Homo sapiens: one gene and its partners. The protein of the gene in region 1 purifies or fractionates together with the protein of each later gene. This does not show direct contact. Each region holds a gene or a part of one and is shown on either strand. Other genes may lie near its edges.

Region 1 (4,200 bases):
GGGTTCCACCTAACTATGGGTAGTTCTTTCCCTCCAAACTGTGCTCAGGCCTCTTAATCAGTGGACTTGGTAAGACTGTCAACTGTGGCAAGGTTCATGGTCAGGAGTTTTCAAGGCAGAGCTGAAAGCCAAGTCAGACCCACCTGGAGAGGTTTTTAAAATGACTGACTCCTCCAACCACCATTACCCTAAACACACACACACGCACACACACACACATGCACACACACAGAGGTACACACATTATCTATATATCAACTGAAATGTCTGGTCTTACAAACATCTTAGTGCTGACATGCCACTATAGGTTTAGAGCCACTGCCATCAAATACTCTACTTTTCAGTTCCTGACTCTGAAGGTTCTATGTAGGTTCCATCTAAGATGGAACTTAATACTTCAGAAACAAAACCCCTCATTTAAAAGAGCTTTCTCTGTTTGATATTGATACCGATACTTTTTAAATGCCTTTGAATATATCACTGACTTCCATCTCCAATTATTTTTGGCTTGGTTCCTGGTTCATGTGTTCTGTCTCAGAAATACCAAAAGGCATTGAGCTCAGTTTTACACTGGTTGTTCTCACTAGAGTTTTCAAGTCAGGACTTGGAGATCAGCCAAAGTCACGGTCCCAAAGTAGACCACAAATTGAAGGTCATCTTTTCTTAATTTCCCAAGCTGGGATAGTAGGAGTTTAAAATAGCCACTAAGACTTATTAGGTTCTTTGAACAACTTGTGGCCAGTGGGACTTGAAGTTGAAAGAAAGATCTAACATCATAGACTTTCCCTTGAGAAGACACAGCTCAGGTATGGTTTAAAAGTATGTGAGAATCATATGATAGCTCTACTTTGAATTTGGGGGGGAAATCTCTATGCCATTTTCCATAATGACTGTACTAATTTACATTCTCACAAACAGTATACAAGAGGTTTTCTCCATGCCCTTGTCAATACTTGTTATCTTTTGTCTTTTGATAGTAGCCATTCTAACAAATGTGAGGTGATATCTCATTTTGGTTTTAATTTGCATTTCCCTGATGATTAGTGGTGACAAACATTTTTTTCATATACCTGTTGGCCATTTGTATCTTCTTTTGAGAAAAGTCTGTTCAGATTCTCTTCCCATTTTTAATCAGGTTATTTCTTTTCTTGCTGTTGAGTTTCTTATACATTTTGGATATTAACTGTGCCTAAGATATAAAGTTTGCAAATATTTTTTCCCATTCTGTATGTTTTCTCTTCACTCTTTCAACTGTTTCCTTTGCTGTGCAGAAGCTTTTTAGTTGGATACAGTCCCACTTATCTAGTTTTGCTGTTGTTTAGCTTTGTGTTTTTGGGGTCATATCCAAAGAAATCATTGCCCAGACCAATGTCAAGAAGTATTTCCTTTATGTTTTCTTCTAGTAGTTTTTTTTTTTTTTTAATAGAGATGAGGTCACACTATGGTGCCCAGGATGGTCTTGAACTCCCTGGGATCAAGTGATCTTCCCACCTCAGCCTCCCAAAGTGCTGTAATTACAGGTGTGAGCCACCATGCCAGGCCTCTTTTGGCAGTTTTATAATTTCAGGTCTATGTTTAAGTCTTCAATCCATTTTAAGTTGATTTTTTTATATGGTGTAAGATTCAGTTTCATTCTTCTTCATGTGGATATACTGTTTTCCCAATACCATGTATTGAAAAGACTGGGGTTGTAATCCACCACTAATCCCTTGTAAAATCCCTGCCTCTCTAAAGGTATCTTCGCTCATTATTCAAACATCTCATTTGCATGAGAACTGGGATCCTTTTAGCTTCCTGAGTCAGTACATTTGGGGATGATTCTCTCTTTATTTACAGATTATAGAAGCCTATACAAGTATACAAGTGCACAATTACATCCACACATGCATGCACATACATGCACAAGCACATGTGCAACCCACATTTTCTCTAGACACATAATCCCCTAAAACAAATTAGAAATCAAACATACAACTTTCTAGGCTTAGGGGCCTCATGGGCTTTATGAAGTATCGTTTCCTCATTGCTCTAAAGCACTGAGGGATCAAAGTTTGATCCCTGGACCAGCAGCATCAGCATCATCTGGAAATTTGTTAGAAATGCTCATTCTTGGGCCCCACCTCATACCTCAGTCAGAAACTCTGGAGGTGGAACCGAGAAACCTGGGTTTTAATGAGCTCTCTAGAAGAATCTGCTGCCAACCCAATCTTGAGAGCTGCTGGTCTAAAGAAAGCATTGCAATATCATTTTCTGAGGAATAGATAGTAAATCCTCAAAATGAGCCTCAATTATAATGGACAATTCAGAATAAATCCCCTTGTATCCATCCTCCCCTTTGCACCCTAGACTTCCACTCTGCTTTCCCCTTCTACCAAAGAGTAAATGTACTTTTGTCTCTTTTTAGGTCTAGACAAACTGAAAGGCAATAAATCCTATGTGAACATGGACCTCTCTCCGGTGGTAGAGTGCATGGACCACGCTCTAACAAGTCTCTTCCCTAAGACTCATTATGCCGCTGGAAAAGATGCCAAAATTTTCTGGATACCTCTGTCTCACATGCCAGCAGCTTTGCAAGACTTTTTATTGTTGAAACAGAAAGCAGAGCTGGCTAATCCCAAGGCAGTGTGACTCAGCTAACCACAAATGTCTCCTCCAGGCTATGAAATTGGCCGATTTCAAGAACACATCTCCTTTTCAACCCCATTCCTTATCTGCTCCAACCTGGACTCATTTAGATCGTGCTTATTTGGATTGCAAAAGGGAGTCCCACCATCGCTGGTGGTATCCCAGGGTCCCTGCTCAAGTTTTCTTTGAAAAGGAGGGCTGGAATGGTACATCACATAGGCAAGTCCTGCCCTGTATTTAGGCTTTGCCTGCTTGGTGTGATGTAAGGGAAATTGAAAGACTTGCCCATTCAAAATGATCTTTACCGTGGCCTGCCCCATGCTTATGGTCCCCAGCATTTACAGTAACTTGTGAATGTTAAGTATCATCTCTTATCTAAATATTAAAAGATAAGTCAAACATTTTCATGAGTGGATAGACATGTTCTGTTACCTTGCTGAGGATGACTCTGAAGGACCAAAGCTCAGTTCTGATAAGCTTTGAAAAGGACAGGAAAAGGGAGGGTGATCAAGCATTGTGTGACACGGGTATAAGCTAAAGGCAGCAGTAAAACACTAGATAGAACTGCAAACAGAAGGAAAGAAAAAGATAGGAAAAGGAATAAGAGGACTGCAACAAAAGAATATATACCTAAATATATATATATGAAGAGAGACTCCCCAACACTCAGACAAGCCTTCCTAGAGGGAGCTATGGAGGTGAACATCCTATTCAAGCCCCTAAGAACATTGATGCACACAGTTTTCTGGTGGAAAGATGTAATGACATAGTAACTAATCATTCCAAAAGAAGAATAATGTTACATTTGGTTGGTTTATTCTGATGATTGTAAAAGTAACAAGACCCAGACCATGTGGCACAACTTACACCTGAGATGGCTGGAAATCTTGCATTTGAAGGGTCTTTGAAGCCCCATGAAGATATAGAGCTAAATAAAAAGGCTCTCTTTAGTCTACAGTTACAGTGGGATTAGATCTGCATCTTGCTTATATTCATGTTTCTAAATTGAATAGACCCTGGGCCCACACCCCATCCAAAAGAAAGAGTTCCCTAAACAGACGTTTCCCGATTCCAATAGCCAATACTGCTCGCAAAGGTTTGTAGACTATTTACAAGAAGAAGCCTGCAGTGGCAGAATGCAACATGTTTTGCTTAATAATATGGTGTAAACAGCCAGAGAGATTAGCTAATGCACATGTGCAAGTGTGCACGTGCACACACACACAGAGGCATATACACACATGCTTAACATATTGCAAAGAAAGTCTGCCTGTAATCCCAGCAGGTCAAGGCAGAAGGATCGCTTGAGCCCAGGAGTTCAAAACCAGCTTGGGCAATATAGTGAAATCTTGTCTCTACAAAAACTAAAGAGTTAGCTTGGCATGGTAGTGTACATCTGTAGTCCCAGCTACTTGGGAGACTGAGGCAGAGGATCACTTGAGCCAGGAGGTTGAGGCTGCATTGAGCTGTGATCATGCCACTGCACTCCAGCCTGGAAGACGGAGCAAGACCTTGTCTCAAAAAAAGAAAAGAAAAGAAAAGAAAAAATATTTAATATCTGCTGCTTGAAACCAT
Region 2 (4,595 bases), on another chromosome or scaffold:
CTAATTTTTGTATTTTTAGTAGAGATGGGGTTTCACTGTGTTGGCCACGCTGGTCTCAAACTCCTGACCTCGTGATCCGCCTGCTTCGGCCTCCCAAAGTGCTGAGATTACAGGCGTGAGCTACTGTGCCCGGCCAATTTAAATTTTTAATACCCAAATTCTTATTTGTGCATGTAATATATTTCAAAATGTACGAAACCATTTCAAAAATAGTTTTAATATTACATTTTATTAATACAGAATAGTCTTTTAAAGGTATTGTTCAGAAAGGAAACAGGATTGCAACAAAAAAATAATTTTTTAAAAACTGAGAGGTGTCAAAACAAAAAAAAAATAAGAGTTTTAGTCAAAACTAAAAAAACAGTAGTCTAATTCCCTACATTACATTGTAAATCCCAGACCCTCCGCCCCCCTTTTTTTTTATAGTGGAAGAAACTACCACATAGTTAGACATTATTTTAATGATTATAAGTAAAAACTTTTGTCTTTTTAAATTTTAGGGATTGAGTGTTGCTATAGTGGGACCCACGTTTCAAGATTTGGCAACAAACGTGAACCGAAATATCAGTAGTCTGTCTTTCATTTTTGTGGGTCGTGCCTTGGGATATTTGAGTGGCTCTGTGATTGGTGGATTTCTTGTCGATGTCATGAATTATTTTTTACTTTTGGGTAAGTAAATGCTAATTTTAGCTTCTTTATGACTGTCAAGTGAATTTACAAGTTGTCTTTGAAAATATGAAAATACTAGCATGCAGAATGGTTGGCCACTGAAATGGGTAGTGTTTAGGTGTCCTCAATGGCAGTTGAGTTTCCCTGGTACCTGCTTTCATCTTGACAGTTAGAGGGTATCTGTGCTGGGTCCCTCTGGAAATTTAGATTAGCTCTAGAGTGTCTTAGCAATCCTTAGCCTTTCCAACCACTATAATTTAGCTACCACTCCTGGATCACACACTGGTTGTCCAAAAAACTCTGCTTAGAGGGTTTAGGGCAGATTTCCTGGGGTCACCACAGATCAGAATGAGCTCTTTGAACCTGCCCAGGCTACACCCTGGATTGGGAATGAAGAGGGGAAGCGAGGTTGGGTGGACTGATGTAGGCTATGTTTTTGTTCCTGCTGCCCCATGTTGTCGTTGGACAACCCCAGAGTGCTCTGTCTCACCCTGGAAATAGATGGCAAAGCTGCTTTTTTTTTTTGAGACAGGGTCTCCTCTCCCTCTATTGCCCAGGCTGGAGTGCAGTGATGCGATCTCTGCTCACTGCAACCTCCCCCTCCTGGGCTCAAGCGATCCTCCCATCTCAGCCTTCCAATTAACTGGGACCACAGGTGTGAGCCACCATGCCTGATTAATTTTTGTGTTTTTAGTAGAGCCGGGGTTTCACCATGTTGCCCAGGTTGGTCTGGAACTCCTGAGCTCAAAGGATCAGCCTCCCAGAGTATTGGGATTACAGGTGTGAGCCACCACGCCTGGGCTGGCAAAGCTTTTAGCATATACTTTTTTTGAATAAATTGAAATATTTAGAGAAAATTTAGATTAATATGATAAAATTGTTTTGGAAGCAAGAATAATTTGTTATTGTTAAGGAATTAATAAATAATCCCTCTTATTTCCAAAGTGGGTTGAAATAACATATTTCTTGTATTTTCCTCCCTATTTCCCAAACTAATTTATTTAGTAAATTTTATTACAAACTACTCTAGTAATTGCATTTTATTTTTGTCTATTTAATTTTTTGCCTCATGTCTAAAAATTCCTGTTAGGTTCTTAAATGTGAATCATTTAAATTAGTTTTGGCTTGTCTCTTTTGGTATAAAACTTTGCCTTATGGTATAATTTACAGTTTGATTACTAGCAGTGCTTTAAATGTATTTGTGTTATAATTATTTATATTTCATAATCCATAAAGATTATAAAAGATTCAAATGAAATAATCACTTTTAGAAGCAAAAACTCTCATCTACTCATTATCTAATTTAAATTTGACCTGATTTTGCATGTTTGGACATTTATGATATTGACTTGATCCATGACTGCATGGATATTATTTTTTATAGCTGAGTTTCTACCTTCCCAGGAATCTCAATGTCGGCTACCACCGTTGGTCTTTATCTTGTTCCTTTTTGCAAGACAGCAATATTACTCACTGTCATGATGTCTATCTTCGGTGTTTCAATTGGCATTCTGGATACAGGTTAGTGAGCTCTTCAACGTCATCTCTGGGAGTAGGGACTTGCTAGAAGAAGTACAGCAGATGATACTAAACTGTCACTTGCAATGCCCCCTAAAATGACACAGACCTACTGAGTTGGTTGTGAGTCACTCAGAATGAATCACCCTTCTAGCAGCTATTCTTGCCAATTAGGGGGCCTGTTTCTGAGCAGCCAACTCTGAAATGAACTTAAAGAATTTTGTTCTATGAGAGATAATTGATTTACATTGTCCAAACAGGGAAGGGCCCCTGTGTGGGTAATTACAGTGCAGGTGAATAGGCCTTCATCTTGGGGTAGAACTTTATTGCTCTAGTATGGGAGGAATTGGTGGTTTAATAGGTTAAACCAAGTTTGGAACTGTTATTTGGCTGAGAAAGCATAGAAGCAGCAATCCAACTTGACATTTACCCTGACTTCCAAGCCAAGAGAGATCCATAGTGTGGACTAGGCTCTTTCTTTTTCTTTCTGTCCTCAAAGTTCCTGGCCTCCTGCAGTAGATTCTTTCCCGTATCATCATCATGTCTTTTAAAACTTACTAAATAGGCCGGGTGCGGTGGCTCACACCTGTAATCCAGCACTTTGGGAGGCCGAGATGGGTGGATCACGAGGTCAGGAGATCGAGACCATCCTGGCTAACACAATGAAACCTCATCTCTACTAAAAATACAAAAAATTAGCCGGGTGTGGTGGTGGGCGCCTGTAGTCCCAATTACTCGGGAGGCTGAGGCAGGAGAATGGCATGAACCCAGGAGGCGGAGCTTGCAGTGAGCAGAGATCACACCACTGCACTTCAGCCTGGGTGACAGAGTGAGACTCCATCTCAAAAAAAAAAAAAAAACCTACTAAATAACGGCGGGGTGGCTTACGCCTATAATCCTAGCACTTTGGGAGGCTGTGTCGGGCAGATCACCTGAGGTCAGGAGTTCAAGACCAGCCTGACCAATATGGAGAAACCGCGTCTCTACTAAAAATATAAAATGAGCCAGGCATGGTGGCGCGTGCCTGTAATCCCAGCTACTCAGGAGGCTGAGGCTGGAGAATTGCTTGAACCCAGGAGGTGGAGGTTGCAGAGAGCCACGATTGTGCCATTGCACTCCAGCCAGGGTCTCAAAAACAAACAAACAGAAAACCTACTAAATAACATAGATGACATCTGTTTACTCCTAAAACCAGCTTTCTACCCCTCCCTTCCCTGCTTTGCTGTTACGTGATCTGTTGAGGAAATATTTTATTTTACTTTAGGGTTAATTTTGTTATGAAATTATAGGGTAGAATTATATATTTATCTGAAAATATCTGTTGAAAAAAAAGAAGATAGCTCAAGATGTGCTGCTTCTTGCCTTTCTCCTCCTAGACGTTTAGACAGTATAAATTCAGATGCTAAACGGTGTCCTTGTTTCCTCTAATGGGCATACCAGAATCCTGGCTATTCAGGTTCCTGGACGTGTGTTTTGCATCTGTTACATACATAAGTAAGTAATTTTCCTCAAGTGGCTACCAACAGCAAGTACAGAAAGCTTTGGTAATTTGGCTACTATCTGATGATAAAATTTTGCCTTTTAAATATATATTTAAAATATTAATATATAAATATTTCTTCTGCAGTCTGATGTTAGAACTGTATTATAAAAAGCGTCTTGCTAATGTGCTTGGTTCTAGGAGGTAGTAGTCTACTAGACTGTAGAATTCGATTTGTGAGTATGTGATGTTATAATGCTTAGAGTTGTCTGGTGGTAGTGGGTTAGAATTCCTTTCTCAGAATTGATTTAGTTGCAATGTTTGATAATTAGAATATTATAATGCTTGTGCTATGTAAAATAGACTCACCCCCTTTCTGATAAGTGAACTTTTTTTTTTAATAAGTAAGTAACTGTTTAACTTAAATAATTTTTCCCATCTTTCATCGACAGGTGGTAACGTCCTTATCTTGGCTATTTGGGGGGACAAAGGAGCCCCACATATGCAGGCCTTACACTTCTCTTTTGCCTTGGGTGCCTTTTTGGCTCCACTGCTAGCTAAACTGGCTTTGGGTCCGACAGCGTCTGCTGAAAACCACACAGAGTCTGACTTCCATCCTGCACTCAACCAATCATCTGATGCTGACTCAGAAGCTCTGTTTGGAGTACCTAATGATAAGAATTTACTGTGGGCTTATGCTGTTATCGGTACTTACATGTTCTTAGTTTCTGTCATTTTTTTTTGTCTGTTTTTAAAGAATAGCTCAAAGCAAGAAAAAGCAAGAGCATCTGCTGAGACATTTCGAAGAGCAAAATATCACAACGCCCTTCTTTGTCTCCTTTTTCTGTTCTTCTTTTTTTATGTTGGAGCTGAGGTAACATATGGCTCTTATGTTTTCTCATTTGCAACCACCCATGCTGGCATGAAA
Region 3 (4,595 bases), on another chromosome or scaffold:
GGCCACTGAGATTCTTCTAGCAGCCGGGCGCAGTGGCTCACGCCTGTAATCCCAACACTTTGGGAGGCAGAGTCAGGTGGATCACTTGAGGTCAGGAGTTTGAGACCACCCTGGCCAACATGGTGAAACCCCGTCTCTATGAAAAATACAAAAATTGGCCTGCGTCATGGCGCATGCCTGTAATCCCAGCTACTCAGGAGGCTGAGGCAGGAGAATCACTTGAACCCAGGAGGTAGAGGTTGTGGTGAGCTGAGATCATGCCACTACACTCCAGCCTGGGTGACAGAGCAAGACTCGAGACTCTGTCTCAAAAAAAAAAAAAATTCTTCTAGCAACCAAGAGGTCTTGTATAATGGATAAAAAGTAACTTGCTGGCCGGGCACAGTGGCTCATGCCTGTAATCCCAGCACTTTGGGAGGCTGAGGCGGACGGATCACCTGAGGTCGGGAGTTCAAAGCCAGCCTGACCAACATGGAGAAACCCCGTCTCTACTAAAAACACAAAAATTAGCCGGATGTGGCGGCGCATGCCTGTAATCCCAGCTACTCGGAGGCTGAGGCGGGAGAATCGCTTGAGCCTGGGAGGCGGAGGTTGCGGCGAGCTGAGATTATGCCCCTGCACTCCAGCCTGTGCAACAACAGCAAAACTCCATTTCAAAAAAAAAAGTAACTTGCCTGAAAAGGTGGTAAATATGAAGTACTGAAATCATAAGAAACTGCCATATCTTATCTATGTGGCCACAGCTATTTCATCTCATACATAGTCTGTGAAATGATCGATGAAACAAAATCACATACTGTAGGCTGGGCGCGGTGGCTCACGCCTGTAATCCCAGCAGTTTGGGAGGTCGAGGTGGGCGGATTACCTGAGGTCAGGAGTTTGAGACCAGCCGGGCCAACATGGTGAAACCCCGTCTCTATTAAAAAATAAAATTAGCCAGGCGTGGTGGCAAGCGCCTGTAATCCCGGCTACTTGGGAGGCTGAGGCAGGAGAATCACTTGAACCTGGGAGGCAGAGGTTGCCGTGAGCCGAGATTGGACCACTACACTCCAGCCTGGGCGACAGAGCGAGACTGTCTCAAAACAAAAACAAAAACAAAAATGAATGCTGTAGCTATTTTTTGAGACGGAGTTTCACTCTTGCTGCCCAGGCTGGAGTGCAATGGTGCAACCTCAACTCACTTGCAATCTCTGCCTCCTGGGTTCAAGCAATTCTCCTGACTCAGCCTCCGGAGTAGCTAGGATAACAGGCACCTGCCACCACACCCAGCTAATTTTTTTTGTATTTTTAGTAGAGATGGGGTTCACATGCAAGGAAAATATTTTCTTTTTTTTTTGAGACAGAGTCTTGCACTGTCACACAGGCTGGAGTGCAGTGGCGCGATCTCGGCTCACTGCAAGCTCCGCCTCCCGGGTTCACGCCATTCTCCTGCCTCAGCCTCCCGAGGAGCTGGGACTACAGGCGTCCGGCACCGCGCCCGGCTAATTTTTTGTATTTTTAGTAAAGATGAGGTTTCACCGTGTTGGCCAGGATGGTCTCGATCTCCTGACCTCATGATCCGCCCGCCTTGGCCTCCTAAAGTGCTGGGATTACAGGCATGAGCCACCGTACCTGGCCAAGGAAAATATTTTCTATAGAAAAGGAGTTTTCTGCTGTGGTCTAGAAAAGGGAGGCCAAAGAGCTAGAATTTGATAGGGTTATCAGGTTTGTCCAAGAAAGAGAAGTATCTTTTTTTTTTTTTGAGACAGAGTCTCGCTGTGTTGCCCAGGCTGGAGTGCAGTGGTGCGATCTCGGCTCACTGCAACCTCTGCCTCACGGGTTCATGCAATTTTCCTGCCTCAGCCTCCCGAGTAGCGGGGATTACAGGTGCACCCCACCATGCCCAGCTGATTTTTAAACTTTTAGTAGAGATGGAGTTTCACCATGTTGACCAGGCTGGTCTCAAACTCCTGACCTCATTCCCTCTGATTCCTTGCTCACCAATAAGCCTTCTAATTTGAAGTTTAACTTCTTAGGTATCGTATTCCCAGGAAAAGAGTATTATGAACAGTAGACATGAATACACACTGAAAGAGTAGAGCTCCCTTTATAAATTAATAACTTGGGGTTCTGGTTTTAAAACTTACTGGTGTGGGTTTAACTAGCGTGAATTTGTGCCAAAGGACCTGGTTATATCCAGTTCACTGACAAACTAAGCTCTCACTTGTTAAGGGGAGACTAGACCCCTGACCACAGTGTTCCTGCCAAGGTATCTGGGGAAGCCTCTCTCTATCTACTTACAGACAAATCAAACTCATTTAGACCAATGACTTAAGAAAAAAACAACTGTAGACTCAAACTGTAATCAGGGCCACAGCTACTATACCTCAGTATTGAATGATCTTACTACTGTCCAAGTTTACAAATAAGAAAAATACCATTAAACATATATGTGCAAGCTGCCATCTTGGTGAAAACCGTCATGCAGTTTGGATGGGGGAGGAGAGAAGTGCTACTTGTGTTTGAATGTAACAATGTCAATTCCTATTCCATCTATATTTTACTTCCCTGAAAACCTAAAAGTGCTTTAAACGAGGCTACATCAATGAAGGACTCATTACCAAGATAGAGTAAGTCAGGGAGCCAGGAAGAAAGCCAGAGCTGATGGTTAGATGCCCTAAATGCAATTAAAACACACTGCCTTCGTGATTTTAAGTGTCATATAAACTAAAACTTAATCACTTTTAAATTTCCTAATTATCTTGGGAATTGAACTGTAAAAGAATCTATCTTCCCAAGAATTTAGTGGTATGTCTTACTATCCTGCTAAAATATTGAATGGTGATGTCAAAATAAACAGTAAGAAATTAAAGGAGATCAGATAGGTGGAAATTTCCATGAAATAACTTTATCCAATAAAATAATAAAGCTCTGACCGGCGCAGTGGCTCATGCCTGTAATCCCAGCACTTTGGGAGGCTGAGGTGGGCCGATCTCTTGAGGTCAGGAATTCGAGGCCAACATGCCGGAAACCCCATCTCTACTAAAAATGCAAAAATTAGCTGGATGTGGTGGCACAAGCCTGTAAATCCAGCTACTTGGGAGGCTGAGGCAGGAGAATTGCTTGAACCCGGGAGGCAAAGGTTGCAGTGAGCCAAGATCGCGCCATTGCACTCCAGCCTGGGCAACAGAGCAACCATCTCAAAATAAATAAAACTTCATTTAAATTAATGATAGTTTAACTAATTCTCAATTTTCCTAGACAAGGAGTCACCCTAGAGGTGATGGGCTAAGGTTACACTATGACAGTTTTCCAACAGACTGACCAACCACAGAGTACAACCAGCATCAGGCTAGTTGTCTGCAGTCTATCAGTTTGTTTAAAAATCTCGGCCGGGCACGGTGGCTCACGCCTGTAATCGCAGCACTTTGGGAGGCTGAGGCGGGCAGATCACGAGGTCAAAGGATTGAAACCATCCTGGCCAACATGGTGAAATCCCATCTCTACTAAAAATTAAAAAAATTAGCTGGGCGTGGAGGCATGCGCCTGTAGTCCCAGCTACTCAGAAGGCTGAGGGAGGAGAATCGCTTGAACCTGGGAGGTGGAGGTTGCAGTGAGCCTGAGCTGAGATTGCACCACTGCACTCCAGCCTGGCGACAGAACGAGACTCTGTTTCAAAAAAAAAAAACAAAATAAAAAAACTAACTTAATCTCCCCGCCCACAAAGCAAGATCATAGGAAGGTAAGACTAAAATTTTTAAACTAGACTTCTTAAAATATCATTCAGTGCAGTGATGACCTCTCATCATACAAATAGATGAGCAACTTGGCTCAAAGGAACTATGTTGTACTTTAATCCATTTTCATCAGACGAAATAAATGTACTCTACCTAATATGCATCCATGTCAGAAATATCACAGCAAGAATCAGAAAATCCATTCTGGGCTGGGCGCAGTGGCTCACGCCTGTAATCCCAGCATTTTGGGAGGCCGAGATGGGTGGATCACTTGAGGCCAGGAGTTTGAAACCAGCCTGACAAACATGGCAAAACCCTGTCTCTACTAAAAATACAAAAAATTAGCCAGGCATGGTGGCGTCTGCCTGTAGTCCTAGCTACTCGAGAGGCTGAGGCATAAGAATCGCTTGAACCCGAGAGGCAGAGGTTGCAGTGAGCCAAGATCATGCCACTACACTCCAGCCTGGGCAACAGGGCTACACTCTTGTCTCAAAAAAAAGAAAAGAAAAGAAAATCCATTCTGCAGCTTGCTAAGGTGCCCACATACCCTGAAAACGAGTATCTTGCCAGGTATGGTGGCTCACACCTGTAATCCCAGCACTTTGGGAGACCAAGGTGGCTGGATCACTTGAGGCCAGGAGTTCAAGACCAGCCTAGCCAACATGGTGAAACTCCATCTCTACGAAAAATACAAAAATTAGCCAGGCGTGGTGGTGCACTCCTCTAATCCCAGCTACTCTGGAGGCTGAGGCACAAAAATCACGTGAATCTGGGAGGCAGAGGTTGCAGTGAGCCAAGATTGCGCCACTACACTCCAACCTGGGCAACAGAGAAAGACTTCTCCTCAAAAACAAGAAAGAGTATCCTAGTGAAACTGGT
Region 4 (4,262 bases), on another chromosome or scaffold:
CACCTCAGTCAGCTACTTTCGTCTCCTTTGTATGTTTTTCCTATCTCTGCTCGTCGTCATAGAGCATTTTAGTTGTTTACACCATTATTTGTACTTTCTAATATTATGCGGAATAAATTGTGACTTACGAGCCATAGGAATTTGTTAGAAATGGCCAAGGGAAGCACTACAGAATTTCAGTTGATTCCATTCACCTAATTTCATTTCAGCTTATGTATGTCTCCTAAATAATATTAAAACGGGCCTAAAAATCAGCAAATAACTTCAGTTTAGAACGGTAATTTCAAACTCGTTTATGTCTGATAAAATAGCATAATGGAACAGCAGTCTAATCTCATAAATTGTAGTGTCTCATTTCTATTTTAGTGGTGGGTTGGTGTCACTCAGAAAGGAAAAAAAAAGCCACTTGGGCTTTTGGGTAAATAATGTGTGCTGTGATGTGTGCTGTGAGATGTCATCCAGCGCTCCACCAGAAGAGGTCACGCCCACTGTCTCAGGTGATACGTGTGTTGAAAATGTAGTTTAAAAGGGATTTCTGGGGCCCAGTGCAGAGGCTCATGCCTGTAATCCCAGCACTTTGGGAGGATGAGGTGGGCGGATCACAAGGTCAGGAGTTCAAGACCAGCCTGACCAACATGATGAAACCCCATCTCTACTAAAAATACAAAAAAAATTAGCTGGGTGTGGTGGTGCGTGCCTGTAATCCCAGCTACTCAGGAGGCTGAGGCAGGGGAATTGGTTCAACCTGGGAGGCTGAGGTTGCAGTAAGCAAAGATTGTACCACTGCACTCCAGCCTAGTGACAGAGTAAGACTCTGTCTCAAAAAAAAGAAGGGATTTCTGTGCATCTTCTGGGTAGAAGAGGTGGCAGTGTTGTGGAAGTATTAAAATCGCGGTGACGCAGTTTCAGTGGTGTAGGTCACAGTGAGATGAGAGCTGAAATTTGTTCCAGAAAATATAAGTTGGGGTGATGGAGTTATCCTATTCTAAGGCTAACTTAGTTATGCTTATTGCTTAGTTATGCTTATATGCATAGTTGTGCTAATTCTGTAGCCACTAGTCACATTTCAAGTGTACAATAGCTGCATGTGGCCAGTAGCTCCCTTATTGGACACAGGCTATGAGACAATAACAGTGTTGCAGAAAATTCTCTCACAGCTCCCTATGACTCTGATTCAGGGTCTTCATATTAGTGAACACTGCACACATCCATTTGGGTTCTATGAGTTGAAGCAATGAGTAAATAGAACAGAAGAGAATAGGTTCCTTTTGAGCATAGTGATGGCGCATGTTGGAGAGTGAGTTGTTCACTGCACTTGCCATGTCACCCAGTTGTGTTCCTGAAGATAATCTGTGATTCAGCCTGTGCACTTCCTGACTGCCCCGATGAGGCATCGACGAAAATGGCAGCCGTGTGCCCTTCTGTCTCCAGAGGGTCAGCCAGAGGCTGTCGGGCTCCTCTGTCACCTACACAGTCCAGGAATTAAGAGAGTTATGTAATTGTTAAACCCTAAAATTGGAAAAGAGTTAATTCAGTCAAATTCAATGAACAAAATTCAGCCACTGCTTAGGTTTCTTCCCAGAATAGCACCTCACTTTCTCCTGCCTTAGCTATCTGAAGTGGAATGAACCAAGTTGAAATCTGCTTCCCTGTAAGTCTAGTGCATTGGTCTGTTTCTGCTTTGAGACCTTACAGAATCAATATGTGGAAGAATATGCAAAGTGTTGTTCAGTCTTAAAATTCGTTATCTAAATTTTATTTTATTTTTCTTCTCTAGATCTGGATCTATAATGAAGAGCATGAATTGGTTTTAAATAGTCTCCTTTGTCTAGATATGTCAGAGACTCGCTCATCAGACCCGCCACGGCTCATGAAATGCCACGGGTCAGGAGGATCCCAGCAGTGGACCTTTGGGGTGAGGAGTGCTCGGTGATGTTGGGAGAATGCGCAGAGGCCCACAAGGTTGAGTGAGGGAGTGTGGCAGATGAACTCATTTTCTACCTTGGGGGTGGTCTTCTCAGTCTGCAGTACAGTGGTCCCCCCAGAAACCACAGGTAGTACAAACCCTGTATATACTGTATTTCTTTCTAGAGATACACCTGTGATAAATTTATCAATTAGGCACAGTAAGAGGTTCACAACAATAACTGAAATGAAACGGAACAGTTAGAACAGCATACTGTGGTTGCGCAGTGGCTCCCGCCTGTAATCCCAGCACTGAGAAGGCGGAGGTGGGCGGATCGCCGTAGCCCAACAGCCTGTTTGTTTTCTCTATAAAAACAAATCAGTATACTATAATACAAATTGTGATTGCGGTCAGAAAATATCTTATTGTATTGTGCTGCAGATAACAAACAGCAGAAAACTAACCTTTGGCTAAGAGGGGACTATTGTATCCCTTAATCTGAATTCTTAAGTGCTCCATCTCTCCTCTGGATTTCCATGTTTTGCCAGTAATTGGCAGTATTTTTTTGTTGCTACCTTTTTTTCAGAAAAACAATCGGCTATACCAGGTGTCGGTTGGACAGTGCCTGAGAGCAGTGGATCCCCTGGGTCAGAAGGGCTCTGTCGCCATGGCGATCTGCGATGGCTCCTCTTCACAGCAGTGGCATTTGGAAGGTTAAGGTGGATGCTGTGGTGGGAACGTTGCTTCATCAGGCGTTGCCTCCGGTGTGGAGTTTGGGGCTTTAGGAAAGCCTGGGTTGGGTGGAGCAGAACCATCTTGGAGAAGATGACAGTTCCCTGTCCTCCCGGAGATGCCTGGGTGTGTTAGCAGAGGTGACACGTGTCTGACAGAGACGGGAGCTCTGAGTGTCCACGGGTGAAGAAGTGAGTGTCCACGGGTGAAGAAGTGAGTATGTTTCACCTGGACATTAAGGTGATGTTTGAGCTGCTGTTAAGGAATTTCTTGCTTATAGAGGCAAACCACAGTATCATTTTAACTCTAGAATTGGGCTTGTACAGAAGGATAAAACCCAGGAAAATGGATATTTCTATTCAGATTTATTTATGCCTCTTTTTAATCCCCTTTAATGATGCAGTGGTTTTTATCTGATCAGGAACTTGTCATGATTTCCTTTCTTAGACTTCATAGGAGATAGTGCTTTAAAAAAAAAAAAAACTTCTATTATTTGTTTAGTATGTTGTAAGTAGATCATTTTAAAAAACTGAATCTATATTATGTTTAACTTCAGAAGGCATCATTTATAAGACAGTATGGCAGTTAATTATAAAATTATTTTGATGAATTATGATACAATCTACATAATAAAGAATCCTTTTGATTATTTAGGATATTTTGTCTTGTATTGGGGCCTCTGGTCTGAGGTGTGTTGCATGCTCTTGGATTCAGGTGATGACCCAGTAGGCTCGGTAGAGTCCTCTGCCTCTCAAGACGCGTCCCAGTTTCTTAGCTTGAGCTGTGTGACCTTAGATACTGGACATCAAAGTTGCCTGTGCAGCACCCAGGGAGAGCTGCTCAACCGGCAGTTGGATATAGAGGTCAGACTCTTGGAAGACGTAGCTCAATTAGAGAATACATTTGGGAATCACCTGCATATACTAAAAATTCTGAAATATAAAGTGAAGTTTCCTCCCAAACCACATCTTAAGAGGAGAGATGGTCTCATATTGCAGGGGATGCACTCAGATATTTTATCTGAACCACAAAACAGTTTGCCACATCCTAAATATTTTATCTGTCATTTGACTTCAAAGGCCAGGATGGTACATATGGAAAACAAGAGCAGCAAGATGGCAGATTGAAATCCAACAGTGTCAATAATCACATTAAGTGTAATGAATGTAAATGCCACAGTTAAAAGGCAGATTAGATAAAAATGCAAGATCCAACTATATGCTGCCTGTAAGAAACTCACTTTATGAATACATTAAAATTAGAAGGATGGGAAGATAGATATATGAAAGACATCTGAATAGATAGACAAAGTAGATTTCAGCACAGAGAATATTACTACAGATGATATAGAGGGTCATTTCATGAATAAAAGGTTCAACTTATCAAGAAGAAATAATCCCAAAGTTCTGTTAAAATTGCAAGAAGTACACGCATCCACAATTGTAGTAAGAGATTTCAACACACCTCTCAATAATTGATAGAACAAGTAGACAGAAAAACAACCATCTTGGCCTAATTGACACTACCCAGCAACACAATACTTGGAACATTTACCAAGATAGACCATATTCTGGGATATTGAGCAAGGTGTGATATACGTATAGAAATTCAAGTCATGCAAAGT
Region 5 (4,595 bases), on another chromosome or scaffold:
ATAATTTTTTTTTAACAATAATAGTGACATATTTGCTGCCCAAATTCAAGGAGACCCTTCCTGCACCCTGCCCCAACCCAAGCGCATTTTTATTTGACTAGATTATTGAAACCAAAAGAACCCTTTGAGACCGAGTGGGATGATTGCTTAGTGGAAATAGGTCAGGCAGAAGATGGGTCAGATGGGGACCTCAAAACTTAATTTTAGTTTTTTAAAATGTTAGTATTTTCTGAAATGGTACTCAGAGTTAGTAGATAACCCCCTTTAAATTGTGCATGTTTGTGTACATGTTTCTTTTTTTCTGCAGAGAGAGAATCCCTATCTTTCATAATTCATAACCAGTATAACCTAAACAAGTTAATATTCTCTCACTAGCCTAGATCGTAAACTTGATGAAATTCTGTTTAAGATTAGCACCTATTAAGACACTGCTCAGTACTAGAGGATATTTTTGATTCACAAAATTTTAGCAATTTTTTTTAGCGTATTTCTATCTAAAAATATTACTTTTAACAAATAGCACATGATACTTCAGTGGGTGTTTTAATATATCTAGATTATTTAAAAGTTAATGTTCATATTAAAATTTTAAAAGGTGCTTTAATGTACAGGAAAGGAATTTGTTTAAAAATCCTTTTGAGAAATCATATTCTAGTTTTTTTTTGTTTTTTGGTGAATCTAGGCTTTTCACGTAGCATAATACTGTGATATAATTATTTAATTTTCTGCACATCACTGGAATATAAAATTTCATATTAATCCAGAATGAGCAGAAGTGAATAATATAATTTCCTCTTAAGTTCTCTTATGTTAAAATAATTCATTTTAAATTATATATGGTTTCTCCCTAATAACTTACAGCTAAAGACATTGTTTTACTTAACAAATTCAATTTACACAGATGTCTAAAGATGAATAGCATTCTTATTTGAAAAATATAAGTTAAAAACAAGATTATGAATATATTCAAAACATTTTAGTTAAAGGTTAATTAATGCATTATAGATTTAAGAGTTTAAAATTTAAGTAGGGAATTGAACATTTGAAATTTTGCTTTCCCATTTTGTGATGGTATGAATAAATCCAATTCAAATACATTTTAATTATAGGTTTAAATAGGTGAACTTTTATAAATAGTTATTAGTGAGTATTCTGTACATTTTATTAGCATATCATAGCATATTTTTGTTCTAAAGACTGATAATACTATTTTATTGGGAAATATTAAGATAAACTTTGTTACAGTTTCTACACTTAACATTTTTTTTCTTTAGCTCTCAATACTCTAAAATTTATGAGATTTCCATTGGTTTTATTAGTAATGTCTAGAAAACCACTTCTTTGTAAAACCATGTTTTCAAACAATTGATTGTGATTAAATGAGTCATTGGGAATTAGGAAACTCTTAAGTAACCAGTGGTGGCAAAGTAGGAGATTAATACCTTAAAGATTTTCTAAATGGCTCTTTGCTGTCCTGGAAGACTAATTTATATCTAATGGCATTTAATTTGTTTATAGGGAATAATATTAATAATTTATTCCTAAGAAAGTTACAGTATTTAGGAAAAATTACAAAAATACATAATAATTCAAATTTGAATTTTCAGGAAATCTTAGTTTTCTATTGCAGTAATTGAGTTTGTCTAGGTGTATGTGTGCTTTGCTGTTATAAGCTTACTTTAGATGCTTCTTTGGAAGGTATGTCTTATTTGGGTATGTCTTATCTAATATTGCTGATTAATCATTACCATATTAGCCATTTTATGAATTACTGAGGCCCTTTTAGTTCTCTTTCCGTTTTCATGTTTTTCCTATTTTCACAATTCTACCAAAAATCTAAAAGGGACCAAAGGCAATATAAATAGAAGCCAAAATTTCTATTCTTATGTTACTACTACTTGTTGCTCAACTTAAGTCTGTTTAATACCTATTCAGTAATTGAAATGATATTTTTTAAATCTCCTGTTAATTTTTACTTTCACAAAGCTGAATGGCTGTATTAAAACTAGTTCACCAATGAGAAAAATATAACCACTAAGGTGTGGAAATGAAGAAATGTGTGTTTTGTTTTTGTTTTTGTTTTTGTTTTTTTAAAGAAAAAGGGTTATTTAAAGTGAGCTGAGGGAGATGGGTGGGATCCAGATGCTTGGAGCTGTCTACTTCCAGACCAGGTTAGTAACATGACGCCATTCACACAAAAAAGTTGTTTTTCCTGCATATTGTGAGTTGGTGGTCTTGGTCCTTTTAATTAAAGATAAGAATACTTGATAAAATTACATTTCTTGTTGATCATCTTTTGCAGAAAGACGGAGAATTACATTGGTAAAGAACCGCTAACCTGTCCCCTCACCCCCAGGGTGTGAGCAGTGAAAAGGATTAAGGCCCACTGTAGGGAAGCTTACACTAAAGCCTGCACTGCCCCTTCCCCTGTTCTTTCAGCTAAATAGATTTTTAGTTCCCATGACTATCAATCTGGTGCTTTTCACAAGCACTAAATTCTCTTAAAGAAAATTAAAGATGACTTATTTTTTTAGAAACTGGCCTGGAATACTGAAAGATGGTGTTTTTTGGTACTTTGTTTCATGTTGACAGATCCCATACATATTTTTTTCTGATGCATGTTAATTTGCTTCAGCTTGTTTTGAATTTGGAGTTGAAATAAACATTTAAAAACCAAGGACAGGTTGTTATATGATTAGATTTGCTTGTCCACAGTTAGCAAGTGTAGAGTTCGACACTGTTGAATCTTACATTTCATTAGAAATAGCTACCTGACAGCCTTGTGGACATAAACTCTTTAACTTTTATCTAGATGACTACAATTATAAAGTGCTTTCTTTTAAAAGCTTTTAAGTAGCTTTTATAAATGCTGAAGTGTCATTTTTTTTAGTATCTGCCAAATTGGTATTGTATTTAATCTTGAAAATATATTTTGATTTTCTTAACTAACAATAATTGCATAGTATTAAACATTCTCAGTAGCTCAACCTTTTTTTTTTCTATTTAATTTGAGCTTTTGTTGTTACTAACAAATAATTTGTGGCACAGTTTCTTTCCTTTTTTTTTTAAATGACTGCTAGAATCTATATACTTGTCACCTTAGTGTGCTAGAAATGTTCCACTCAAATCAAGGGTTCCTTTCTGGTTTTGTATGTTCTCACCTGCTCCTCACTGTAAATCATTGAGATGTCAAGTGCAATGATTAATTAAGCTGCACGTGCAAGTGCTTTTTTTTTCACCTGTCAAGCAGGAAAGAAGTCTTATAGCAAAATTAGATGGTGCTAATTCACAGCTTTTACTTCAGACTGTGAAGTGTGTAGAAATATTTTATATTTATATGCTTATTCAGAATGTGGCATATCAGGGCTTGTTTGTTTTATAATTCTTAAATATTGTAAGATACAATTATTATACCAAGCCCTATCATTAAACTCCTAATTATAAACAGAGAAGAAATTCAGAATTCCTACTTAAATATTTTGGAATTCAAGATTTATACTTTGTAATTATCTTTTATTCAAATACTAGTAGTTGATTTAAGTTAAAGTAAATATTTTTAAGTTTTAAAATTGTGTGTATGTATGTGTCTATATATCATAATGAGATCTATTCTTATTATAGCATGGGTTTAAACTTCTGATGAAATGATGGTGGTAACTACATTTTTTTCTTTAAGTAATAAGTATTTGCAGAATGTAGTATTAAGCTTTTGGGTACTATTTTATACATTAATATAAAACAGTGGGCTTGGAAAACTTGTTCTGCTCTAGTTCTTTCATCATCCACCCACCCCCAAAATCATCAGTAAAAGTAAAACCTCAAATTGTATAGTAATCTTAATCTATTATTAAAAGGCCCTAGAAAGAAAGATTACAAGGTAGATTCAGGTTTTGAATCGGTTTTGCCATTGGTTTAGCAGCGGGTGGGCAGGCAGATGCCTGCTCAGAGTAGAACCTATTGCCATTTTTCACCATTGATAGAGTAGCCTTTCAGAGTCAATGAGCTCTGTCAATGTGAGCTTGTCAAGGCTACAACTTCATAGACCTGAGAGGCGGTTTGAGAGGTCAGCCCTTTTCAGGTTCGCTGTGATGCAAATGAACTTTAATGCTTAAACAACTATTGGAATTTTTATGTCTGCTCCTTGTTCTTTTTTCTTCACAAAGTCATTGACGAGACATTCAGTGCTTTTTAAATTGGAAGTTGCATTGTGCTAAAGACCTAGTACAGATTTACGGAGGGCTGAAAGCAGTTAGATCATGTTCTTTTCATGGTGCGATTAGAATCAAATCGATTTCCCTACAGCCTTCAGCATTCAGATGGCAATTTTAACAAAGCTTGGGGGCTAGACAAGGGACAAAACGACCGAACTGAATGTTAATTACACTCTGCAGCCTTATTTTCTTTTGATTTGGGGCTGACTGGCAACTAAATTAACAAAAAGTGTGACCATAACTGCTGCCCTATTTTCATTTAAAAGGAGAGCTGCCTCTAAAAGGCTATCTTTACAAAGAAACAAGTGAGGTCTGCTGATCATTGTTAACAAGGGCACTTTTTTTTCTTTAAAATTCTTGCCAAAAAGACTCTTCAGAAAAAGT
Region 6 (4,595 bases), on another chromosome or scaffold:
ACTTTGATTGATTAGCTCTGACCAATCTGTACCAAACATTCCAGGCAGTGTTGTGCACATGGTGCCAGGTTGCTGTAATTTTTTTTGCACGAATAATATACTCACAGATAATTATTCCTTGGATAAGCTCTGAGAATATTTGTATGCAGATTAGCATTTATTGAATAGCACGGTTGAGTGATGGAGCAGGAAAAGCATCAAATGGCTTGGGAATAAAATTTAATTTAAATAGATTAAATAAAACAGCCCCAAATAGCTTAATATGGCACCTTGTGAGGCTGTGGAAAACCCAGCAAATCTTAGAAGCCAGCTTATCTGAGTGAGAAAGAAATTCAGATATGAAAAGACAGAAGGTGTGCAGTTCACTTCGGATCCCAGGCTCACAGAGGGTCCCCTCCATTCTATCTACATCAGCTCCAAAAGCCTGAGAGTTTCATCTTCATTTCTAGCCTGGGGAAATCACATTGTCTGAGTGAGCGATTTTCCTTTATAGAAATGATCAGAAATAGTAGCTTCCGGGGTGGTAGTTGTTTGAATATGTGCCTGTGCTTGTGAAGGAAAAAGTACTTTAAAGCACTAGGCAAGGATAGGAATGTGAGACTCAGATGATTGGGATTTTTCTGTTTTTAATTCTTCTATAATATTTATTCATGATGACCTATTTGCTTCTTTGTAGTTTTAAACATTCACTGCTAAATCCTTATAGCAATGTATATATTTTTTCTTTGTTTGCTCCCTGGGAGATCAAACTCTGATAAGACTTAAGTCTGTTATAGATAACCTCTCACAAACTTTAATATGCCTTTCTCTAGTAAGCAATATTGTTGGCATTATCTTATAGCTTTCACTGAAAAACTATGTCATGTATCTTTTATGTGCTATGATAGGAATGGATTTTAATGTCTCCTCATATTAGGTTCCTGTTGGTGTTCAAATGAATAAATATGTGATCAATGGAACATATGCTAACGAAACAAAGCTGAAGATAACACAACTTTTGGAGGAAGATGGGGAATCTTACTGGTGCCGTGCACTATTCCAATTAGGCGAGAGTGAAGAACACATTGAGCTTGTGGTGCTGAGCTATTTGGTGCCCCTCAAACCATTTCTTGTAATAGTGGCTGAGGTGATTCTTTTAGTGGCCACCATTCTGCTTTGTGAAAAGTACACACAAAAGAAAAAGAAGCACTCAGGTGGGATTTCTTTTTTTTGTTTTTTGTTTTTTTTAGAAAGTATTATCAGTTAATTATAAGTATCATTTACTTATGATATGGATTATGATTTGATACATTGCAATGACTTTAGGATTTTTGGGGAAAATCTTCATTTTCTTATTTGGAGCAGTATTTAGGTTTACAACAATGGTGACAGTGAGCTGGAAACATATACCCATGGTCTTCCTGTTTCAATTCCTGAAAAAACTTAGTATTAAAAATGCCTTTTTTCTTTCTCTTCCCCCACCACCCCCCTCTTTTTTTTTTTTTTTTTTTTTTTGGTGCTACTGGTACCTAAGTACCAATTAGGTGATATGTATTCTGGCACTGGAATATTAGAAAAATCTATGATAGCTTAATATAAAAAGTCTAAAAGAAACAATTTTTCTTTCACTTAGATTATCATTTAAAAAAATATTTTATTAACCATTCCAGAGTTCTCATTAAAGAGAGACCATCCTGTCATGTCCTATTTTTGCGGCCTGTGCCTGATGGGTTACAGGTTGATAAAGCAGTAATCCTCTAGAAAATTGACCTTACGTCCTGTATTCTTTCCTGATTTTATACTAAATTTTTAATGATTTAAATAATGACAAACTAAGCAGTCATGTTTTTGAAAATACCAGGCCACTAAACTATGTTTGATCAGAAATGCAGATAAGGTCTGTAGTGCAGATAAAGGAGGTGTAGGTGTTTAAGGTAGCATGTCTCTCCTTCATTCCAAACAGGAGAAACAGCATAGTACTTACTTACTTAGGAAGGAGGTTTAATTGAGCATATATGTTCCATAAAAGTGACAAACCAACTTCACAGTCAAATTCTTCTTTTGTTACACAGATGAGGGGAAAGAATTTGAGCAGATTGAACAGCTGTAAGTATTATTTTTTACAGATTAATTTTCACTTGGGTAAAATACAGGGAAACATAAAATTGAATGAAATGTTTGCAGTTAGGGGGAGAAAAGGCAGAGGAGTATTTTCTGTATATGTCCACGTGGTGGTGGAAAGTGGCTTTCCAAGTCTGCCTACCTGCGTGAGAATTCTTCTTCATCACTTACTACCTGCACTTCTCTGTACTTCAGCTTTCTTCTCTACAAAATGGATTTAATAATAGTACTCACCATATGAGGTTGTTGGATGGAATGAATATTATATATGTGTAAATGCATAGCATAGGTTATGGTGCACAGAAGGTGTGCAGTAACCATCAGGAAGTATTTAATATTATTATTTTTAAAGCAATAGTTCTCAAGCCTGGCAATTTTTGATCACTTAAGAGCCTCTTTAAAAAAATACAGTTGCTCAGACCTTGCTGAATCTCCTGGATCAGAACCTCTTGGGTTGGGGCTATGGCATCTGTTATTTCTTGAAAACATCTACAAATGGTTTTGATCCTCTGTCTGTTGAAAATCACTGGCCTAGAATTCTATTAGTTATTATTATTCAGAGAACACAAATTGTGCCACAGGTTCTCTTACACAGCCTTTGTTTAGAGTTAAGCATGAGGAGGTCTGGAAATAAAATCACCAGGGATGTAATTTAGTTTGGCAAAGATGGGAGTTCCGAATTCCTCGAAGCCAGAGAACTGAGTATGGAGGCCAGTGACAGAGGTGTCCAAGACTGGGATTAAAGCCTGAACAATAGAGCCAAGGGCTGGAGTCCAGGAAAACGAGGCTAGATTAAAGTTGCTGCAAGAAACCTGAGAAGTGGAAGGCCTGAGCAACTATAACTAACACAAAATGGCACTTAGAGTTTATCAGCCAACAGGAGCTCTATGGAGTGAGTGTTACAGGCATGGATAGCAGGAGTGGAGCAGACAGTTGTCATTTAGATGTTTGTAGACATTATTCAGATAATCATGTTGACTCCATTCACATAGGCTGCTAAAATAAACCAATATGATATGAGCTTCCAAGTTAAGGGCACAAAATAACTACATCAGAAATCCTATAACACCAGATAGAGAAAAGCAATGTTGTCTTAGAATCATAGACTCCCATAGTTGGAAGGGAATTGTATCTCTCCCAAGAGAATCCCTTCTCTTTCTGGAGAACATAGATATCTTATTTATGTTGATTTGAACTTTTAATCTTTCCTATTTCCACGTATTGGCGTTTTTCTTGTTCTTAGCATCATATAACAAACGTGACAGTCATTGACATATTTGAAAACAGAACCTTGCTCGGATTCCTCTATTCTCCGAGCTCTGCCTCCCACTGTCTCTAACCATTCTTCTGAGCTCACATTTGGAAGTTGCATTCTGATTTAAAACACACTCTGAAAGGATGGTACCAGAACAGTGTGGAATGGACCATCACTTCTGAACAATGTAAAATGGATTCAATATATAGTGTAAAAGATGAATTATTTTTCTGAAAATTGGATCAATGTACATCATTTTGCTCATCTTGTATAGCACCATAAGGATCACTGAAGGTGTTTAGTTTTTCTTCAGGTTATTTCACTATCTTTAGATTGTATACAAATATCAAGGGCACTTGAAATCATTCAGAACAATGAGCTTCTTGATGTCCCTCAAACCATTTCTTGCAATAGTTGCTGAGGTGTTTTCTTAGTGGCCATTATTCTGCTTTTGAAGAGTACACACAAAAGAAAAACAAGCACTCGTGGGATTTCTTTTTTTTTAGAAAATATTAATTATCAGTTAATTGTAAGTAACACTGTCTTATAATATGCATTATGATTTGATAATTGACGCCTGCCCCCAAGACCTTGAAGGGCAAGGTATTCATTATGCATACTGGTTATTTAGTTTCCGTCAATCTTTAGAATCTGAGGCCCACATTTGTAGTCCTGCTCTGATAAACTTTGGGTGGAAAAAGAACCATTTTTAACCTCTATTTCAGTGTAATAAGCATACAAATGTATAGCACCAATATCACACATGTTGGCTGACCTCCTAATTGGCTATTACCTTGCATGTTTCCAAAACCACACATAAGTTATGGTCTTTACGCCCAAGTCCTCACTCATGCTTGGGGAGAAGCAATTCTCCCTGTGCATAAAATCAACAAGCCTTTGTCACTATCATTTGTGGTAACAGCTCCTCTTCAAGCAATGCCATAAAATAAATTCAACATTGTAAGTAAAACATTTTTAGGAAGAAAGAATTCTGTCCGTATTGACATTTTACATTTTAACCTGATAGCCATATCAGTGATGTACTGACTTAATTTTATATAATATAAGCATTTAGTAATTTTCTTTTTTGTTTTCTGTGCAGGAAATCAGATGATAGCAATGGTATAGAAAATAATGTCCCCAGGCATAGAAAAAATGTAAGTTACTTCTGAATGATATTCCAAATAAAAGGTCAAATTCAATATACATAGGCTATCTATCAATCAGTTACTTTTTTTTA
Region 7 (4,595 bases), on another chromosome or scaffold:
GGACTCACTGTAAGGAACGGATGGGCACATAACTGCATGGAACATCTCTCCCTGCAGCTCTAGTTCTCCTTGTAAGTCCCTTGCGTTGGTAGAATAATCCTCAGTTAGACAAACACTGATTTAATATGTAGCTCTGGCTAACAGGAGGTGATTAAGAAGAAAACCTCTTAAGATGATTTCCATCCTTTGTCTCTACTTTAGTGGTTTATCTTCATTTCCTGCCTCTTTCCTGTCCCTAGCTGTCTTTATGCTGCTTTAGTTGAAAAGCGTTAATGTGGTCATTAAGGAAAAATAAGTCAAATTTACATTTGACTTTTTATTTTTAAATATTTAATCAACAGAATCCTTGGTTTTACTCATTGCCGCCCCCCACCCCCCAACACACATCCCTTCCTCAACTCTAAAGTGAGCCTCATTCTTTCATATTTTCTTCCATCTAATTTAGAAATTCTATTTGGATTTTTAAAAATTATATTTATTTCTTTGTAGAAAATAGATATTTTCATCTTTAAAGTACCTTTATGGGTTTTTTCTTCTAAAATTGTTTTTTAAAGAAAAAAGTTTTATTTGGAATAAGATTCTTGTAGGTAATTCCATGAGATGATTTATTTTAGCAGCAACATAATATTTACATTATTATTAATGTAATTAATGTTATTAATACCTCATCAGATAGCTTCTTTGATCTGGAAGCTTCCAGGTACCTATTGTCAGTACTTGTGGCTCTACCACTTGCCGAATGTATTACAACTCTAGTTGTGGTAGAGAGGGGACTGAGAGGTAGACAACTTATGTAATCTACTACCTAGTTTGTTAACAAAACACACATACAAAGCAATGTTTTTCAAATTTTTCTGACCACTGAGCAATAAAAATTATGACATATATTTTGATGTGACCCAGTTCTGTCTCTCTTTCTCTACCCTCTAAGTGAAACAAAATTTATTGAAACCAAAATTCCCTTACTACATGTAATATTCTCATATATTCTATTAAATTTCGTTATTTAGCTTGCTGATCAAAGGCTACTGAAACTTGAGAGCAAGATACAGGAGCAAGGGGAAATGTGGTATAGATTCTGAGTGTCAAGTGGCAGGTCCATTTTTTCCTCTAGCTCCAGTTCTGCCTTCTGAGGAAAACCTTCTCCAACAACTTAGGTCAATCACACCCATGTCCCTTCTCTGAATCCTTTTTGCACATATGATTGGTATCCGACAGCCTTACTCATTTACATTGCACTTATTTGGCTGCCAAACGTCACAAACTGGAACCATGTGTTACTGAAGGGAAAACCTGGAAGTGAAAAGGGTTCAGCAGTAGTGCAAATACCATCATAAAGCTCATATACTTCACTCTGCAGGAGGGAGAAGCTCTGTGGTTTTCCAACTGAGAGCATTACAGTACAGTGATACCACTGTACAGGAACTGATGTTCCTGATGATTCTGCTGTGAACAGTATTTTTAATATACACTTTGAAGAAGGCAGAGAGAAATGTATAATAGACTTAAATTTTTTTCTTTAAAATTGTTAAATAAAAACAAATAAGCACTTTAAGTAAGTTACAATTATCTGGAAAACTACTTAGGTGGAAAAACTGATACAGAATGAATGAAGTATTAATTTCTGTTTTGTTCTGTGTTATTATTATTTGGGATAGATGTCTTGTTTCTTTAAGCAGACTATGAATATCTTGAAGGCAGAACCACATTTTTTTTTTTTTTGAGACAGGGTCTCACTATTACTCAGGCCAGAATGCAGTGGTGTTATCATAGCTGACTGCAGCCTGGATTCCTGGGTTCAAGCCGTCCTCCTGCCCCAGCTTCCTGAGTAGCTAGGACTACAGGCATGTGCCATCACACCCAGCTAATTTCAGCTATTTTTTTTTTTTTTAAATAGAGATGGGGTTTTGCTATGTTGCCAGACTGGTCTCAAGCCATCCTCCTGCCTTGGCCACCCAAAGTGTTGGGATTACAGGTGTGAGCCACCACGTCTGGCCAAGGACCAGATTTTTAATATTCTTTTCCACAATGTATCTGGTACACAGTAGTTGCTTAATATGTTGGCTAAACAAAGAGTGGAGATTCAGTAAAGGGTGATCAGAGTGAGGTGAGATTAATTTGGGAAAGCCTAGAAGTGATTCTTGAGCCTGATTTGAAGGTGGTGCTAGCTGTGGATTAGTAGAGGGAGAAGGGCATCTCAGAGAGAGGATTGCCAACATGCCTTAATTTTATCAGATTCTAGAGTTCCTTATGATTACCTCAGCATGTTGCTAGACTAGCATTATTATCCAAAATTTTAATTATTAACCAACTTTAATCTTACTTTCTAACAAATTGTTTGCTTTTACTACTGATAGCCTTTTCAAAAAACTTTAACTAGTTTTATTCCTTACCATAATTGTTTCAAAGAACATAATGATATGATCCTTTATCTTCCTAAGAAATGTGCAATTATTTGGTTAAACTGTAAGATTATTTAATCCATTATTCTTTTGACACATGCATGGCCTTACAGCTTACAAACTGGGATCACTAAAGGAATACACTTAATTTAAGTCTTTCTGTAGTCAGAATATGATTTCTTGTTGTCTTGCACAATACTGAGAACAGTGCAGTACAGGGCGAAGGTTGGTCTACAGCCCTTAGGCCAGCAAAAACAGGCACAACTGCACCTCTGTGCAAATGTTCCTGACATAACCTTGGGGAAAAAATATAAAATGCGGCCTTTTCTTTTACTACCTTGTTTGGTAAGTACCTGGAAAAACTCCATGAAATAATTAGATTTCATAGTTAATTCTAACTTTTTTAAAAAATGTTTCATTGAGACTAGGTTTTTGGTTTGTTAATTGAATCACTGTTGATTTTACCCTTCCTGGCACCAACCTTTATTTCTGAGCTGTGGAGAGCACAGTTCTCACTCAGTGCTGTGTGCGTCACCTGAAATCCACAGAAAGAGGTGGCTGAACAAAATCACTGATGACCTTAATGGTTATTTTTCACATATTCAGATTAAATTAAAATACGTTTAGTGCTACATGCTTGACTTACTGAGTTTTTCCCTCTATTTTGGTTAATTTTTTTTTTTTTTGGTTAACTTTTACTTGTAGAAAATATGTTGATGAACAAAAACCCACTTATACTATAAGATTTTATTCTACCAAGCACACAGTAACAATATTGAAAGCTGCTTTCCATCTTTTTCATCTTTATACAGTTCCATCGAGCCTCTGTACCTTACCTATGGAATCATATTTGCCTGCGGCTGCTCCTTTGCATACCAGCCTTCATTGGTCATTTTGGGACACTATTTCAAGAAGCGCCTTGGACTGGTGAATGGCATTGTCACTGCTGGCAGCAGTGTCTTCACAATCCTGCTGCCTTTGCTCTTAAGGGTTCTGATTGACAGCGTGGGCCTCTTTTACACATTGAGGGTGCTCTGCATCTTCATGTTTGTTCTCTTTCTGGCTGGCTTTACTTACCGACCTCTTGCTACCAGTACCAAAGATAAAGAGAGTGGAGGTAGCGGATCCTCCCTCTTTTCCAGGAAAAAGTTCAGTCCTCCAAAAAAAATTTTCAATTTTGCCATCTTCAAGGTGACAGCTTATGCAGTGTGGGCAGTTGGAATACCACTTGCACTTTTTGGATACTTTGTGCCTTATGTTCACTTGGTGAGTATGCTCCTTCACTGATCATGAATATTACTATTTAATAAAGAAAAACTTCTTTGAAGAGAAAGTTAGGTCGAGTTAAAGTTGGCCTCAAACATTATCCTGGTTGTAATTTTGGTATTCTTGAAATGAAAGGTCTCTCAAGACAATGTCAGCACATCCATTAGACCACTAAACAGAGAGAGTATGTTTCATAGTGTGCTTTGGTATTTTAAAAACCCTGCAAACCCAGCCAGACACCATGGTGCCTGTCTATGGTCCCAGCTACTAAGCTGAGGCAGGAGGATCACTTGAGCCCAGGAGTTCGAATCCAGCCTAGACAACATAGAGAGACTCTACCTCTAAAAATAAAATAAATGTCCCCAAACAAACACAATGTTTTTTAACAGGAAGGCTAAAATAGTGGAACAAATTACAATCAGTATAAAACATTTGATAGGTCTCTTTTTCTTCATATGGCTTTTATCAGGGACAAAGCTAGCGCTATGATTTTGCTACCATAAGTAAATTGTTTTTCAACCGAAGGGTGTAGGTAATTAGCAAAAAAGCCATGATGTTGATACAAAGAAACATTACATCTACTTGTGGTACACTTCTGGGAAAATGGGAATTCTATTCAGAGGAATATCTGAGAAAAGTTACTCAAGATCTAAATGAGGAAAGAGAACTATGGTTTTATAGGAAATTAGGATTTCAAGTGCTCAAGAAGTTTATATTGTTTATTTCTATTTCAAAGGCAAAATTCAGCTTTGTTATACTGAAATACGAATAATTAATGTCTAGACTGGGGTTGGTGCCTCACGCCTGTAATCCCACCACTTTGGGGGGCTGATGCAGGAGTTCAAGACCAGCGTGGGCAACATAAGGAGACTTCATCCCTACCTGGGGAAGGAAAAAAAAAAAAGAAGGAAGAAGCAGTGTCTAAAG

The links.
Region 2: the proteins of DHRS9 (region 1) and SLC60A2 purify together in Homo sapiens (affinity purification with mass spectrometry; 3 studies listed by BioGRID and IntAct, with this or other methods). This does not show direct contact.
Region 3: the proteins of DHRS9 (region 1) and TULP3 purify together in Homo sapiens (co-immunoprecipitation; one study listed by IntAct). This does not show direct contact.
Region 4: the proteins of DHRS9 (region 1) and GALNT11 purify together in Homo sapiens (affinity purification with mass spectrometry; 3 studies listed by BioGRID and IntAct, with this or other methods). This does not show direct contact.
Region 5: the proteins of DHRS9 (region 1) and CHIC2 purify together in Homo sapiens (affinity purification with mass spectrometry; 3 studies listed by BioGRID and IntAct, with this or other methods). This does not show direct contact.
Region 6: the proteins of DHRS9 (region 1) and EMB purify together in Homo sapiens (affinity purification with mass spectrometry; 3 studies listed by BioGRID and IntAct, with this or other methods). This does not show direct contact.
Region 7: the proteins of DHRS9 (region 1) and SLC16A10 purify together in Homo sapiens (affinity purification with mass spectrometry; 2 studies listed by BioGRID and IntAct, with this or other methods). This does not show direct contact.

What each region holds. Positions count from the first base shown.
Region 1 is NC_000002.12:169,093,140-169,097,339, forward strand, and holds the end of DHRS9 (dehydrogenase/reductase SDR family member 9), read left to right. Parts: intron 1-2,404; coding exon 2,405-2,628; 3' UTR 2,629-3,028; downstream 3,029-4,200. UniProt on the Homo sapiens protein: 3-alpha-hydroxysteroid dehydrogenase that converts 3-alpha-tetrahydroprogesterone (allopregnanolone) to dihydroxyprogesterone and 3-alpha-androstanediol to dihydroxyprogesterone. Also plays a role in the biosynthesis of retinoic acid from retinaldehyde.
Region 2 is NC_000006.12:111,261,757-111,266,351, forward strand, and holds part of SLC60A2 (sodium-dependent glucose transporter 1), read left to right. Parts: intron 1-500; coding exon 501-669; intron 670-2,073; coding exon 2,074-2,190; intron 2,191-4,119; coding exon 4,120-4,595. UniProt on the Homo sapiens protein: May function as a sodium-dependent glucose transporter. Potential channels for urea in the inner medulla of kidney.
Region 3 is NC_000012.12:2,914,618-2,919,212, reverse strand, and holds part of TULP3 (tubby-related protein 3), read right to left. Parts: intron 1-4,595. UniProt on the Homo sapiens protein: Negative regulator of the Shh signaling transduction pathway: recruited to primary cilia via association with the IFT complex A (IFT-A) and is required for recruitment of G protein-coupled receptor GPR161 to cilia, a promoter of PKA-dependent basal repression machinery in Shh signaling.
Region 4 is NC_000007.14:152,119,054-152,123,315, forward strand, and holds the end of GALNT11 (polypeptide N-acetylgalactosaminyltransferase 11), read left to right. Parts: intron 1-1,777; coding exon 1,778-1,915; exon of another isoform or gene 1,916-1,962; intron 1,963-2,464; coding exon of another isoform or gene 2,465-2,492; coding exon 2,493-2,624; coding exon of another isoform or gene 2,625-2,773; 3' UTR 2,774-3,287; downstream 3,288-4,262. UniProt on the Homo sapiens protein: Polypeptide N-acetylgalactosaminyltransferase that catalyzes the initiation of protein O-linked glycosylation and is involved in left/right asymmetry by mediating O-glycosylation of NOTCH1.
Region 5 is NC_000004.12:54,015,314-54,019,908, reverse strand, and holds part of CHIC2 (cysteine-rich hydrophobic domain-containing protein 2), read left to right. Parts: intron 1-4,595.
Region 6 is NC_000005.10:50,399,776-50,404,370, reverse strand, and holds part of EMB (embigin precursor), read left to right. Parts: intron 1-916; coding exon 917-1,193; intron 1,194-2,051; coding exon 2,052-2,085; intron 2,086-4,457; coding exon 4,458-4,512; intron 4,513-4,595. UniProt on the Homo sapiens protein: Plays a role in the outgrowth of motoneurons and in the formation of neuromuscular junctions.
Region 7 is NC_000006.12:111,173,998-111,178,592, forward strand, and holds part of SLC16A10 (monocarboxylate transporter 10), read left to right. Parts: intron 1-3,214; coding exon 3,215-3,668; intron 3,669-4,404; coding exon of another isoform or gene 4,405-4,440; exon of another isoform or gene 4,441-4,595. UniProt on the Homo sapiens protein: Sodium- and proton-independent thyroid hormones and aromatic acids transporter.